Linked DNA regions of Homo sapiens: region 1 is linked to region 2. The links come from fine-mapping of genetic effects on gene expression. Tissue or cell type: whole blood. Region 2 holds a variant in brackets; the other region holds the start of a gene. All regions are shown on one strand. Distances are between the middles of the regions.

What was found. PIP is the estimated chance that this variant, and not a neighbour inherited with it, causes the effect.
Region 1: ASB8 starts here. The variant in region 2 is fine-mapped to the expression of ASB8 in whole blood (INTERVAL, PIP above 0.99).

What each region holds. Positions count from the first base shown.
Region 1 is chr12:48,154,010-48,162,157 of GRCh38, reverse strand. ASB8 (ankyrin repeat and SOCS box containing 8) reads left to right here and starts at 4,643. Exons shown (of 4, transcript NM_024095.5): 1 at 4,643-4,699. It also overlaps the pseudogene LOC100421855. RefSeq lists enhancers at 4,463-4,682, 4,713-4,762, 4,783-4,832, 4,337-4,859.
Region 2 is chr12:48,213,780-48,221,977 of GRCh38, reverse strand. It overlaps LOC102725258 (a long non-coding RNA gene), which reads right to left. Exons shown (of 3, transcript XR_001749122.3): 2 at 1-52. Among named protein-coding and RNA genes, the nearest start is that of OR10AD1, 15 kb to the right of the region's middle. RefSeq lists a silencer at 7,905-8,105. The variant AG/G (reference allele first, on the strand shown) is at 4,640.

The DNA.
Region 1 (8,148 bases), 60 kb after region 2:
TAAGGTACTAATCTAAGACTGCTTTTCCTCCTCCTCCATGTAAGGCATATGGCTGGTGGCTGCCTGCAGCTTTCTCCTCAACTTTCTTCCTCCCCCACTAGATAACTGCTATTGAACCTGCTTGTGTAAAAGTGGGAGGAGGTAGGAAAGCTAAGGAGATAGGGCAGGTTTTTCTTTCTTGGTAGGGTAGGTCTGTACTACCTGGGTCTTGCACATGGTTAAAGCTGACTCTTTTTCTTAAAGCTTGCTTTAAAAGGTTCTTTGCAGATTCCCATCATCAGAGATCTCTTACTTGAGTTCCTTTGGCCAAAACCAATGCAAGTGGTTGACTGTGACAAACTGTGGATTGTAGCATCCCTGTGTTCATTTCTGGCTTCTAGCCACCGGGTCCCCCTATACCTCTAGACAGCCCATTTGGATAGACCGAAGGCAACCCCACGTTGGCTGTCTTCCATGTGGCCCACATCTGGTCCAGGAAAACATTTATACATTCGTCATCCCTCCTGAATCTGGGTGTCCAGACAGATACCAATGTAGCCACCTCTACTTTGTGGCTACAGCCCTCTTTAATTTATAAGTAAGCACTGGTGCAGTTTTTGTTTTACAACTATGGGGAACAATCTTCAAGTTCTCTGGTCCCACAGAAGCCCCTCTTTAGGCAACATCAGTACTTCCTTTCCCTCTGGGTAGGAGGAGAGTAGGGACTCAGCACATACAAATTTCTCCCCAAGAAGTCTCTTCACAGACCCTTCCTTCCTTCACTCTCTTGATCTCACCATGAGGTAGAACTGTTTGTCAACACTGACTTTGGACATAACAATGTTGTTGAAATAATCATCATTAATTGCAGTTGAGGATGTTCATATCTGTCTCCCAACCCTTGATAATAAGAGACTGTCTGTCTTCATTTCTGTCTTCCCTGGAGAGTTGAGCACAAAGCCTGGAATAAAGTAGGTGCTCAGTAAATGTTTGATGAAAGGATGATTGAATGTATCCGAAACCAACTTTTGTTGCGCACTGAATTCTCTGAGGCACTTCAAAGTAATCAGTATGGGCCAACTTTGGTGTCTCTTGCCTGGCTGACATGAGCTTTGGGGCCCAGCCAAGTAGACTGTGAGAGTGTTGCCAAGGCAATTCTGCATGCAAGAGGAAGTGTGGCAGGACTGGGGGTTTGCTGATAGCTGCCTGGGAAGCTGGCCCCTCAGGCAGTGATACCACCAACCACCCTTGAGGTGGTCAGGGCCTGAGCAGAAGGACTGCAGAGACTGCACATGCCCCTTGAAGCCCAGGCCTATTTCTTGGAAGTCTTTAGCATTCACATTTGCTATCTGAGGAGGTTTACTGCCTGGAGTGAAGTATTCAAAATAGAAAAGACAGAGAAGCTAGAGAAGGAACAGCAGTGAAGCATCAACAAGCCTTTACTGGGGGACCATTTTCCCTCACAACACATTTGGAGAGCCTGAAACTGACAAAGACTACCTGGGTCAGTGGCTGTTGATTTATTCTGGTTTCAGTCATTACTGATATCTGTCCAGAAGAACTAGAAAAAAATAATTCAAGTTGTGGGTGAGATAGTGTTCCAACTCTGCCAAATTTAACTTTTCATCACCATTGACCCAGAGAGGGACATAAAAAAGGCCATTGCAAATTATGTGAAAGAATTTTCTCCCAAACTGGTTGGCCTGATTGGCACGAAAGAAGAGATCAATCACGTGGCCAGAGCATACAGAGTATATTACAGCTCTAGCCCCAAGGATGAAGATGAAGACCATGTTAGTGAATCATACAATAACAATGTCTTTGATTGGGCCAGATGGTGAGTTTCCAGATTATTTTGGCCAGACCAGGAAGAATGCAGAAATTGTTAGCCAGTTCAATTGCTGCACACATGAGGGCACACAGGAAAAAAGAGCTAGCCAAAGCAGTGATGCTGGGTGCAATATTCTCTTGTTAAAGAGGAAGGAAGCAGCCAGGCGCGGTGGCTCACGCCTGTAATCCCAACACTTTTGGAGACCGAAGTGGGTGGAACACCTGAGGTCAGGAGTTCGACACCAGCCTGGCCATCATGGTGATACCCTGTCTCTACTAAAAATACAAAAATTAGCCAGGTGTGATGGTGCCCGCCTGTAACCCCAGCTACTCAGGAGGCCAAGGCAGGAGAATTGCTTGAACCCGGGAGGTGGGTGGAGGTTGCAGTGAGCTGAGATCGTGCCACTGCACTCCAGCCTGGGTGACAGAGTGAGACTTCATCTCAAAAAAAAAAAAAAAAGGAAGCTTTGTCTTCCATAGAAATATATATATTGTGTATATATATGTAATATATATAGTATATCTGTAATATATAGTACATATGTAATATATATATTGTGTGTATATATATATGTTATATATATGCAACCTACAGAATGACCTTTGCACCATTGTACCATGAGAATGTTTCTATTTTGGATTGGCATGTTACTCCTGGGTTCAGTCAAAATAGACTCTTGAAACTGTAAGATTACAACTCAAAGTCTCCCAGGTAGCTGTGGTGAGACCAGAGGACCAAGTCTAAATGAAGTCAGTGAAGAGTGGAGGACGCTCATGGAAGGACACAGCAAGGGAGGCACAGCCAGTGCATCTCCCATTATGAATGGGCCCTCCCAGCAGCTTTATTGGCTCTCCAGTGTTTTGGACCCTTGCTCATACAGGCTGTGGAACTGAATTTCACAGAAAAGAATAATTTTTATAGCACTTTGGCTTCTCTCTTCTTGAGTTATTTGCTCTTCTGTGTTCTTGGTGGCTGATGATAGTCAGATTAGGCTCTCTGCCATTCAAAGTTTATCTTTGTACTTGAAAGCATAAGTTTTGTCTTCTTTGTTAATGAATATCACTGTCAGGCTTGCTCCACTGCCCTATCAGCAGGTACTGATTTGACTAATAAAGATGAGATCTATTGTTTGGGGGGAAAAAAAGTTAGTTTGATTTCTCTAGGGGTCTCTTATGTGATTTTTAGCTAAGTGATGGGCTAGGTTTTCAATGACATGCCAAATGGAAATAAGAAGATATTGATCATGAGTGTGACATAGAGTAGTTTTCTGCATATACTGAGTTGCAGGCCAAGTAAAATAAAAGTGTACTCAGTTTTTCAATAAATAAGTAAAATAACCTGTATTGAGAGCCTATTTTATCACTCCCTGGGAGACTCCGCTCATTCTTACATTTGTAAGATGCTGATGGTTTCCCAGAATTTATATACTTCAGCATTTCCCAACCAAGAAATTTGAGAGATGTGGTCCAGTGTGGTGACTCATGCCTGTAATCCCAGCACTTTGGGAGGCCGAGGAGGGTGGATCACCTGAGGTCAGGAGTTTGAGACCAGCCTGGCCAACATGGTGAAACCCCATCTCTAATAAAAATACAAAAAAAAAATTAGCCAGGTGTGGTGGCAGGTGACTGTAGTCTCAGTTACTCAGGAGGCTGAGGCAGGAGAATCACTTGAACCCGGAAGGCTGAGGTTGCAGCCAGCCGAGATCACGCCATTGCACTCCAGCCTGGGTGAGAAGAGCGAAACTACATCTCAAAAATAAATAATGATGATGATAATAATAATAATAATAATAATAATAATAAAAACATTGCCAACATTTGCAACTTGGAAAAATTCACTTTTTAAAAAAAATCTGTATTTCAGCTTCTTTTGAAAAATGGACGATCTCACCATGGTGCAGTGGCAGGAAGTGGAGGGCATATTCCTACCTGGCAAAATTCCTTTGAGTCTGGAGCTCAAAGGAGGCCCACTCCTCAGACCAGGTCATGAACTTTCAGTTTACCATCCTCTTACTGATGTACATGATCTGTCTGGGCCTGCTTTAAATCTCTAATTGGTTAGATTTGGTTGCTTAGAACAAGCTCTGGGGAGTAGGTGTGGGGCACTCTGGTTAAACAGGCTACCGGGCAGACCACAACTCTTGCAGTCTGCCTAAATGGGCTGCTGCTTCACTCCTTCCATGCACCACCACCATGTGCTGCTGACTTCAAAATGTTTATGCTTTGCACAGAAAGTCTGTCACTCAGAGGTGTCATCATGTTTTTGTGCGGGAAGTTTCATTAACCCTAATAAGAGTTATAAAGGTCATTTATTCCTCTACATTTAGAATACTACACCTCTTGGGTGGTTGAGTTTGTCTTTGATATGGTTTACTTGAAGGAGGGTGGACATGTACAGGAGGGTTCTAAGGAGCATAGATTCGTTCCACCATTATGAATAATGCTGTAAGTATTTTTGTCAAAGACACTTCCTACTAAGAGTTTAGTCTCCTAAGCAACTGAACCATTGTGGATGGACCCCTGCTGGCCTGGTCCACGCAGGTGCAACCATATAGAATCGGCCCAACACTCAGGGTTCCTGAGCTTTTTTATCCCCGCTGCAGGACCAAGACCCGAACCCTGCGGCTGTGGCCGAGAACGCTGCACTGAGCCTGCGCGCAAAGCCTCTGAGTAAAAGGAGAAAGTAACCCCCTAACTAGGCCTCTGGAGGGCGAAAGCTGCTGCACAAGTCTGCGCAGGCGCGCCCCGCTGACGAACACTCATCAGTGCGCAGGCGCCCATCTTAGTTGGTCTTCTAGTCCGGTAAACAGAGGGCCTGCCCCCGACAGCTTCTGCTTCCGGGTCACGCCTTGACAGCGGCTTTCAACCCCCACCTCAGCCCAGCAATTCGGTGAGTGCGGTCCTTGGAGTGGGTCTACAGCCAGGTTTCCTAACCCAGGGTACCACGCCCAATAACGCTTCCTCTACTCCCTGGTCGAAGTGCTCTAGTTCTCGAGGCTGAGACTTATTTCCGGGCCTTAGAAGGCAGATCGAAGAGGGGGTTGGTCCGCGTCTGAGGCCCCCCAGCGCAAATTGCGTGATTCTCTTTCAGTACCGGACCTACCGGGATTGCTGCGATCTGTTTAGAGCCCGTGCAGAAAGTGACACCGCACGTCCTTGCGTTTCGTGCCCTTGCCCCCCGCCCCCTAGCCTCAGCGAGACAGCTGCCGCGGGCCCTCCCGCAGCAGGTGCGGTGGGGATTACGGGCGCTGCAGGCTCGGCCAAGGTTCTCCCGGGGCGGGAGGGGGCGGGGCCGAGGCCTCCCTCGCATCAGAGCTGTTGTGTCTTCTCTTTTCCAGTTTGCTTTTTTTTTTTTTTTTTTTCAGCTTCTCAGTAAGTGCCCTTTGGTGTTTTCTCTGGATCCCGTAGCAAAAGAAAACGAGGGAGACAGGGCTTTCAGCTCTAGCAGAGGAAAGGGCCTTCCAAGGGGATCAAACCTTACACGGGCTGCTGTCTAGTGAGATCGAATTTAGCTTTCCTTGACCATTCCTGAAGTGAATGCTGTCTGCCCTGAAGTTTCATTCCTTTACCGGGAGCTTCCAGGCAGCAGCAGACCACTGACCATACTCTCAGGAGTTCTTAGCCCAGAGCCCAAGAGCGCCCGGGAAATTAGTTCAGGATTTAGTTTCATCCGATTATCATGGCCCAGAAATGGTTAACAAAACGACTTTATTTATTTATTTTAATTTTTGAATTTTTTTGTAGAGACGATTGGGTTTTGGGGTCGTCTCGCCATGTTGCTCAGGCTGGTCTTGAACTTCCAGGTTCAAGAGTTCCTCCTGCCTTGGCCTCCCAAAGTGCTGGGATTACAGGCAACAGAACCACTTTGGTCCAAGCCTCCTGCTTTAGATGCTCTGTCTTCTGCTGCCATTCTTGGAATTACCAACTCAAATGCACTTGTCTTTTTTTTTCCTTGAAACAAAAAAATTATAAGATACAGATACTTGTCTCAGAGCAGTTTAGTGGCTACTGGAGAGATTAAAACACATGCCAAATCTAAACTATCTAGAAAATGTCATAGAGACATATAAACAAGTGTGTCAGCTTATCCGTGCATGATAACGGGAGAAAAATACCTAATTTGAATTATCGATACATATGAATATTTTTACTTGCATTCTTTTAATGGAATTTACATCTACTATAAATGGCTACTGATTCACAAAATAGAAACTATCAGAATTTATAGTATATAATATATAAAGGGATACACAATCACAAAAAGCAAAAATAGGCCGGGCATGGTGGCTCATGTCTGTAATCCCAGCACTCTGGGAGGCCAAAGCAGGTGGATGACCTGAGGTCAGGAGTTTGAGACCAGTTTGGCCAACATGGTGAAACCCTGTCTCTACTAAACATACAAAAATTAGCTGGGCGTGATGGTGCACACCTGTAAATCCCAGCTACTCAGGAGGCTGAGGAACGTGAATTGCTTGAGCCTGGGAGGCTGAGGTTGCAGTGAGCTGAGATCGCACCACTGCACTCCAGCCTAGATGACAGAGTGAGACTCCGCCTCAAAAAAAAAAAAATAAAGCAAAAGACTATATATACATATATATATATATATTTTTTTTTTTTTTGAGATGGAGTCTCACTCTGTCATCTAGGCTGGAGTGCAGTGGCGCGATCTCAGCTCACTGCAACCGCCACCTCCCAGGTTCAAGCGATTCTCCTGCCTCAGCCTCCCAAGTGGCTGGGACTACCAGGGGTGGTGCATGCCACCATGCCTGGCTAATTTTTTTGTATTTTCAGTAGAGACGGGGTTTCACCATGTTGGCCAGGCTAGTCTCGAACTGCTGACCTCAAGTGATCCGCCCATCTCGGCCTCCCAAAGTGCTGGGATTACAGGCGTGAGCCATCGCGCCCCGCCAAAACATTATATATTATTAAATGACCAAAACAATTTCATATGGGTAATGTGCTTATTTATTTCAAGTCTTGAATTTCTTAGGATCTAAAGTAATAAACTTTACATTGGTTCAACAGATGTTAAGAACCTACCATGTGTTCAGGTACTATTGAAAAAATCAGTATCGTTATTCCCAAAGAGCTTATAATAAGAACACAGATTTCTAAGCAGTTGCACCTAGAGAGCTGATACTGTGTATTATATTTTCCCTATTGTTTTTGATATGTACTGTTTCATAGAAGTGTTCTACCTTATTGGCTGTAATTTTAAATGGTCCCTAACTCTTGTCTCTTATACAGCCAAGCCTTTTAAGTTGAATTGAAGTATATTGCATTATTTTCTTCTTCCATCCTAGAACTCTGTCCTATTGTGGTTTCAACATATATTTCACCAAATCTATTTCTCAGTTGCCATGAATAGCCAATTATTAAAAATTTTCACTCATTTTATTTATTTTTTTGAGATGGAGTCTCACTCTGTTGCCAAGATTGGAGTACAGTAGTGCAGCCTCAGCTCACTGCAACCTCTGCCTCCTGGGTTCAAGCTATTTTCCTGCCTCAGCCTCCCGAGTAGCTGGAATTACAGGCGTGCGCCACCATGCCCAGCTAATTTTTTTTGTATTTTTAGTACAGATGGGCTTTCACCATGTTGGTAAGGCTGGTCTCGAACTCCTGACCTCAGGTGATCCACCCACCTCAGCCTTCCAAAGTGCTGGGATTACAGGTGTGAGCCACCACGCCCCACCTTTAACTCATTTTAAAATCTGCAAATTTTCCTAAAACTGAAAGTACATTTTATTATTCTGAATTTTAATTTTTTCCTAGTTTTATATAAATGACTCCAGGGTAGTTATACTTTTGCTTTCCTTACCTATTTTAGAATACTACCTCAAATATTTCCTTTTTTTTTTTTTTTTTTTTGAGATAGAGTCTCACTCTGTTGCCCAGGCTGGAGTGCGGTGGCCCGATCTCGGCTCACTGCAAGCTCTGCCTCCCAGGTTCACGCCATTCTCCTGCCCCAGCCTCCCAAGTAGTTGGGACTACAGGCGCCCACCACCACGTCCAGCTAATTTTTTTGTATTTTTTGTAGAGACGGGGTTTCACTGTGTTAGCCAAGATGGTCTGGATCTCCTGACCTTGTGATCCACCCATCTCGGCCTCCCAAAGTGCTGGGATTACAGGCATGAGCCACCACGCCCTGCCAAATATTTCCTTTTTTTCCTCTTCTGAACACATTTGAAAATGTTTCAGATAACTTTTCATTATTAAGATATATTTGCTCCATAGCCTTCTTCCTCTCTTTTCACACATAACAATCACTTCTATACTGTTTAGTCAGTCGACCAACCAATATTTGTTAAATACCTACCTTTTGTGAGATTCTGTGGCTGG
Region 2 (8,198 bases):
TTGTAGCAGACTAGAGAAGGGTTGTAAGTCACAGTGATATGCTCCTGCTGGCCTGGAAGAAAACAAACATCCATGCTGTGAACTGCCTGTGGGGGCCGTGTGGCCAGGAACTCTAGGAGCTGAGACCAATCCCCAGATGACAGCTAGTAAGTCATACGACTGCAAAAAAATGATTCTGCCAGCAACCAGTGAGCTTGGAAGAAGACCAATGCCTCAGATGAGAATGGCAGCCCCAGATGACTCCTTGATTTCCACCTAGTGAGACTGAGCAGAAGACTCAGCTAGTTCATACCCAGACTCCCAACCCATGGAAATGGTGAGATAATTTTCACTTGTAATAGTAAAGAAAAATTGTAAGATAAATTTTAAGATATTGTAAGATAAGATAAAGCAAAAAAATCATATGATAAATTTTACTATAAGCCACTAAATTTGTGGTAACGTTACACTGCAATAGAAAACTAATATATGTTTTAATTTTTTTTTTTTTTTTTGAGACGGAGTTTCACTCTGTCGCCCAGGCTAGAGTGCTGTGGCGCGATCTCGGCTCACTGCAAAGTCCGCTTCCCGGGTTCACGCCATTCTCCTGCCTCAGCCTCCCGAGCAGCTGTGACTACAGGCGCCTGCCACCACAACCGGCTATTTTTTTTGTATTTTTAGTAGAGACGGGGTTTTACTGTGTTAGCCAGGATGGTCTCGATTCCCTGACCTCGTGATCTGCCCGCCTCGCCTCCCAAAGTGCTGGGATTACAGGCGTGAGCCACCGCGCCCGGCTGTTTTAAATATTTTTAAGAAAATACTATGGAAAATTTTATGCCATTAAATCTGATAATGTAGATAAATGAAAAGTTATTAGAAAAATATAATTTTCCAAGTTGAAGAAGAAATAGAAAAACATAAACACACATATAAGCATGAGATTAAATGAATAGTTTAAAAATATTTCTATAAAGCCAGACATATGATTTTAAGGCAGATACTATCAAACAATTAAGGAAAAAAATGCTAACTTTGACTATACTAGAACAAAAGGAAGTACCTCAACCTTTTTAGTGATGTAAATATAACTTTGAAACTAAAATTTGCCCCCGGCAAAAAAGATAATTTCACTCTTGGACATAGTTGCAAAACTCCTAAGCAAAATTTTAGCAAATTGTATATTACAATATATTTAAAAGATTATACCTTATATCATGACCAAAGTAAAGTTTATCCCAGTAATTCAAAGTTGATTTTTTATTTTTATTTTTTAATTTAATTTAATTTTTTTAGAGACAGGGTCTCTCTTTGTCACCCAGGCTGGAGTGCAATGGTGCAATCAGCCTCAACCTCCTGGGCTCAAGTGGTCCTTCTGCCTCAGTCTCCTGAGTAGCTAGGACTACAGGCATGAATCACCATGCCTGGCTAATATAAAAAAATTTTTTTTAGAGATGGGGTCTCGCTGTATTGCACAGGCTGGTCTCGAATTCCTGTCCTCAAGTGATCCTTCCACCTCAGCCTCCCAAAGTGCTGGGATTACAGGCATGAGCCACTGTGCCAGCCTTGAAGTTGATTTAACATTAAAAAATGAATTAATGTAAATTACCACAGGAACAGAAAATGAAAAATCACATAATCATCTTAAGAGATGCAGGAATGCCATCTATTTTATTGAAAATTCATGTCTGTTTGTAATTTTTTGAAAAAAATCTCAGCAGACCAGGAATAGAAAAGAACTTCCTTAAGCTATTAAAGTGATTATAAACCAAAACCGCATAGCAAACATCATCTTTAATAGTGAAACATTAAAAGCATTATCTGTAAGATCATGTCTACTTTGTTATTAATAAAGGTGATATTTTGACCTCTATCTGCAGACTCATTGTCTTATTTCTCAGTTGATTCAGAACCATATGGGAGAGTAATATTGTTTACTGTATCCCCCTCGAGGTCCCATACAATTATTTTAAGTGATATTATTATATGTGTGGAAATAAAATTGCAAACAAAGAAAACAATAGAGTTTTGGTTATAATTAAAATATACTCAGTCATAATAATGTCTGGCAGGTCCTGGAAGAAAAGAATGCTGGTGATACACATATTTTGCATTCTCAAAGTACAGTGCGGGTGAATTAAGGGACAGAAATCTGCATTCCATGACCACAGCAGCACAATGTACAAAGTATGCCATTGTAGACTAGACTGGTGGGAAAATGTCTTATTATAATGTAATGCTCTGATTCTTGTCATATTTACCTAAGAGGGGCAGGACAGTATTGAATACATTCAACAGCAACAATGTTTCTGTTGTTCTCTTAGCATGCTGTAAACACAGGAAATAAAATATAATACATATTTTATGGTTTATTATATGGAATCTGTTTTAGGAATGGGGTTAGTGCACTTACATTGTAAATGAACTCATCAATCTTGTTTAAATCATGTAGGGTCTTCTGTTAGAAAGCTTCAGCCTATGTGAGGCTTGACTATCTTCTTGTAGTCTGCTTTAAATAAAATGGGCCTCTCATAATTTCAAACCTTACACCACTTAAAACCTGGTTTATCTAATGCATACATAAATCTCTTACTTTTTCGATTAAATTAAATGCATCATTTCACGATGCAGAAAAACATCATTTTTTCTGGGTGAATAAACTTTATAGTAGAAAAATTTAATGTGGTGTTCATGGATCCCCAGGGAATCAACAGATATGTTTCAGAGTGTCCACGCATCTCTGAAATGTTGTAGGAAAAGTTGTGAGCAATAGAGCATTTTTCTTGGTGAGTCCACAATTTATCAGCTTCCCTAAGGCTGCTGGAACCCATGAAGGGTTAAAAATTTCTGTTTTGAAGTCACAAAGTTCCCACAAATTTATTTGGTCTGAAAATTATTCTTTTATCTTGCTGAATTGTTTGTTTCCTCAAAAGTGTCTCCAATGGAGAGTGATTGAGAGAGAGTTGAGCAGCCATCCACCACCAGTAGCCTCTAATAGAGCTTCAGTAAAGTACTGGTGGATCCCAACAGTAATAAGATAATAAAATAGGAAAATATGCACAAATAATTTTTAAAAATAGGTACAAGAGAAAATATCTGCTAATGACTGACAGATTCAAAGAATCTTGTTCATGGAAAAAGACATTTTTGTAACAACAACCAAAAAAAAGGCCAATCTAAGTGAGATCAAGAATTAAGTCTAGAAAGTCTTCCATTTAGGTACAAACTTGAAATTATACCTAAACTTTGAGGAATGCCTTAAGAGGCAGAGAGTAGCCATAAAAAATGTTCATTTGGTAATTGAATTGTTTGTGGATATGTGATTATTGTGGTATAAAAGAGAGACTCAGTGAAGAGAAGCAGGTTCCCTTTCATCTTTATTAAGGAAGATAAACAACAGCGATTCCTGTCCCTGAATTTGACAATGAGTGGACTGATTGGAGGTACCAAATTCCATAATGGCCAATACGTAATCATTTTGAAATTGAATATATAAAATAAAAGATTTAAATTAGGGCTTATTTGAAAATTGAATGGAGATTTTCTTTGCTACTCAAGGCAGAGAACTAGAGCCAGCACTTAGGATTTACAAGACTTGTCTTCCCTCCTCCCGCTCTGAAAATTTCCCTGGTCAAGTAAGATTAAATCAACAGGCAGTCTATAGGAAGAAGGCAAAACCATCCACCCTCCTGATTCTAGCCCAGAGAGCACATAGTTTGCCCTAAAGTGGTAAATCAATTTCTCTTTGTTAACTAAAAATAAGAGAATGTGTATGTTTTCATTAAATGGGAAAACTAATAAAATTTAGAAATCAGACTAATAAAAGCAAAGAAAGGACGTTTATTCATTCAAAAATACAGATAAGATGACCAGCTTTAGGAATCAATGAGGAATGAGCCCTGGAAGTAGGCCTGCTAAAATACAAGCTCAACCAGGATCTTCCAGAGTTCCTTATTAGTGAGACCAGGGTTACCCAGAACCAGATAGATAAGGGGTGAATGCACAAGTTGCAGTGTCATTTGTAAGATTCAGCTGCCTATTTGTGCAAGGAGAGAACCAAGTAATTGCATCTGGTTGGGTAGGTGTTTTGCATCAGGAATGCTAGAAAGAGATGAAACTACACTGAGACCCTTCACCAGGAGCAAAAAGAGAGAAATCAAAAAAGAACAGCCCACAGCAAAAGTCCCTGTAAGATCAGAGCGCTTTGGCCAGGCGTGGTGGCTCATGCCTGTAATCCCAGCACTTTGGGAGGCCAAGGCAGGCGGATCACGAGGTCAGGAGTTCAAGACCAGCCTGGCCAAGATGGTGAAACCCCGTCTCTACTAAAAATACAAAAAATTAGCTGGGGATGGTGGTGGGTGCCTGTAATCCAAGCTTCTGGGGAGGCTGAAACAGAGAATTGCTTGAACCTAGGAGGCAGAGGTTGCAGTGAGCTGAGATCGCACCACTGCACTCCAGCCTGGGTGACGGAACAAGACTCTGTCTCAAAAAATAAAATAAAATAAAATAAAATAAAATAAAATAAAATAAAATAAAATAAAGTAAAATAAAAACTCAGAGCCCTTGTCCGCCAGACCTCTCTGACCTAGCACCAGCCCCATCATTAGAAACATAAGGTCAGCCCCTTACTCTATCCTTAAATGGCCAGAAAAAAAAAAAAAAA[AG/G]CTGTTTCTCCATCTGATTTTACATATAACCCAGAAAGCCCTGGAATTACGGTATTTTTAAAGATTTTAAAATTTGAGAACTCAGAACTCTGTGATTTTCACTAAGACATATCTGCTAGGAATAAAATCGGGAAACAACAAGCAATAAAGTTTTGCCATGTATTTCCTAATGAAGTTGTGGAGACAAAAGCATGTGGACCCATGTTTGGGGAGGCATTTGCAAGACAGATGTAAATGACTTTTAATGAAGGGCAACTAAGCCTTAGTGAGAGTTCCTGGAGGCCTCTGCTTGACAAGTCTGTTGCAATGTAGCAACTCATTCCAATGTTGCACAAACCCACTTCAGAAGTGCTTCTACAGGCCTGTCCATTTCCCTTCTTTTCTATTTTAAGTTCATTCCCATTTCCCTTTTCTTCAGCAAGATGGACAGTGAGTAGTTTGCCTTTAATGGTGCCTTGCCTTGCAACAGATTTAAGTTAAATTGTAGAAGTGTTCTAAATTCTCTCATTGCTTCCCTCCCAGTTTTTTCTGCCTTCACTTTGCTCCATTCACCTCTTTGCTACCATATCCACTTCAGTTTCTCCATATCCCTCTGAAAGTGAGGATCTCTGAAGTACCTGCAGCCCCTGAAGATGCCTAACCAAGGCCAAGTATTATGAATGTATCCAGACTTGGCATGCCAGACCCCTGTGATGAGACATCCCTGTGATCTACAAAATAAGTGTAAGGCACAAACTGTCCTGGAAGGTCCTTCTTATTGGTCTGCATTAAAGGGAGATGTTATGGGGGAGAGACAACTATCTGAGCCGATGGTGCAGGGGTAAAAGAATTTACCAAGAGAATTAATTGTAGGTACAGAAAGGCAGATTTACTAGAGAAAGTAGGAAAATATTTTGCCAGAGAGGCAACTGGCAGTATCAGCATGAGAGAAGCTGACTGCAAAGAAACAGGCTTGGCTGGAGAGTTTATATTATAGAATAGAGTTTATGCTGTATGCTGAAAAGAGCTTTGTGCAGTGCTGATAATGCCAAGGTTGCAGTGAACTAACTTCAGGGTGTCTGGTAATAGTTGGGTACAGGAAGATTGCGAGTTATTTGTGCAGGAGGGCTATATGTCCTGGACCACGAAGAAAGGTATCTGCTTTCTTTTTTTGCTTTCCCTTGGTCCTGCCAGCCTGACTCCTTTTCCCTAATTAGGACTCCACAGAAGACATAATAAATAATGAAAATACCAAAAATAACCTCATCCTAATTTTATAGTGGAGGTTTTAATTCCGTATTGTGCCTCCCTCCATATCATAAGATATGATCGCCTTCCATGATCCCTATCCCTTCTCCAGCTGAGCCCTAAAGTGAATCTACTATTCCACTAGAAAAGCTATAACAAAAACCAGACGAGATTTGCTGCTCCTCCCCCTTCTCACAGTCACCTTCAATATGGGGATTTAAACAAAGAGTAAAATAACCAGAAATCTAAGGGAAAGACAGAGAAAATGATATGCAAAGCTATCCATGATAATGCTCCTCTGTGTGTATGTTCAAAAGAACTTAGTAATCAAGAAGAACCACGACACATCAGTGGACTGGATAATAACTTCAGCTGTTCCATGGCATTGATTAATCTGAGCTATTTTGCTATTTTAAATGCCTGAAAAAAATTGGACTAACTCTAAATAGCTTAGAGAAGAAAGGGAAAGAATGAGAGATATGAGAGAGAAAGACACACACACACACACACACACACACACACACACACACACACAGAGAGAGAGAGAAAGGGAAGGAGAGAGAGAGAGAATTCCTAACAGAGAGAATTAGTACTATCCTCTATAGCAATAAGGCACAGAAGAGAAAAATTTGAAACACACTGAGAGTCCTGGATTATGAAATAGATGTTTTTTAAGAGGTGAATAGTTATGTATTTATGAGATTCAAAACCTCAAAACAGTTCAATAGCAAGAAAACAACTGAATTTAAAAATAGGCAAAAGGACTTGAATAGACATTTCTTAAAAGAACACAAAAAATGGCCAACAGGTATATGAAAAAAATGCTCAACATCACGAATCATCAGGGAAATGCAAATTAAAACCACAACGAGATATTGCCTCACACCTATTAGCAAAAAGACAAAAGATAAGTGTTGTGAGGTTGTGGAGAAAAGGGAATACATGCACACTGTTGGTGGGAATGTAAATTGGTATTGTCATTTCTTAAATATTATAGAGGTTCCTCAAAAAATTAAAATTAGAACTACCATATGATATATCCAAAGATACGAAATCAGTATGTCAAAGAGACCTCTGCACTGTCACAATCTTTGCAGCATTATTCACAGTAGCCAAGATAGAGAATCAACTTAAGTGTCCATCAATGGACAAATGCGTAAAGAAAATGTGGTATATATATACAATGGAACACTATTTAGCCTTAGAAAAAAACCAGGAAATTCTGTTATTTGCAACAACATGGATGAACCTGGAGGATGTGATGTTAAATGAAATATACCAGACACAGAAAGACAAATACCACATGATCTCACTTATATGTGGAATGTTAAAAAGTCAACCTCAGAAACAGAGAGTAGAATTGTGGTTACCTGGGGCTGGTAGGGAGTGAGGACTGGGGAGATGTTGGTCAAAAGATACAAACTTTTAGTTAGATGGGAGGAATAATTTCAAGAGCTCTATTGTACAACATGATGACTAGTTAATAACAAGGTATTAATATATTCTTGAAAATTGCTAAGAAAGTAGATTTTAAGTGTTCTCACCACAAAAATGATAAGTATGTGAAGTAATGGATATGTTAATTAGCTTTATTTAGTCATTTCACAATGTATACATATATTAAAACATCATATTTTACACCATAAATATATATAATTCTTTTGCCAATTAAAAAAAGAATTCACAGTCTTACTTTGAGTCAGACTGGGGGTACAAGGTAAAATGGCTTTGTTATCTCAAGCTAAATGATTTGTAAAATATTTTTTTCCTTTGCAGACTTAATCCTTTTTTTCCTCAGACGTAATAGTTTAAAAATGATTTGTAAAGCTGATGTATAAACACATTAAAAACACACAGACTTGAAAGTGCATCATTTTACAGAGAAGCAGTGAGGCATGGCACAGGGTAACGTAGAGGGACTTCGGAGACCGGCATACCTGAAATTCAGCCTCGGCATTGCCATTTACTCAATGGGAGTCAGCTAGCTGAGTCTCAAGTTTTTCTCCTACAAAATGAGGATTAACTAAAATAATACATGATTAGTGGCTTACACAGATAGACAACAAACATTAGTTCTGATCTCTGTTTCTTGTCTGTCTCCCTGTGGTTTCACTTCACCTATGGAAGGAAGATTGTACAGACTTGGCCAGGCTTCCACTTGTAAGCCCAACTGCTTCTGCAGAAACCCAGAGAGAGGAGAGGGTCTCACCTGCCCTTTCGAATCCATCCTCATGTTTCCGGCTTCTCAATGCCAGGAAATTATTTACATCTAACTCAGCCTTCACCTTTTCTCCTAATCTGGTTCCCAGAAACATTGTAAACAAATGTGGA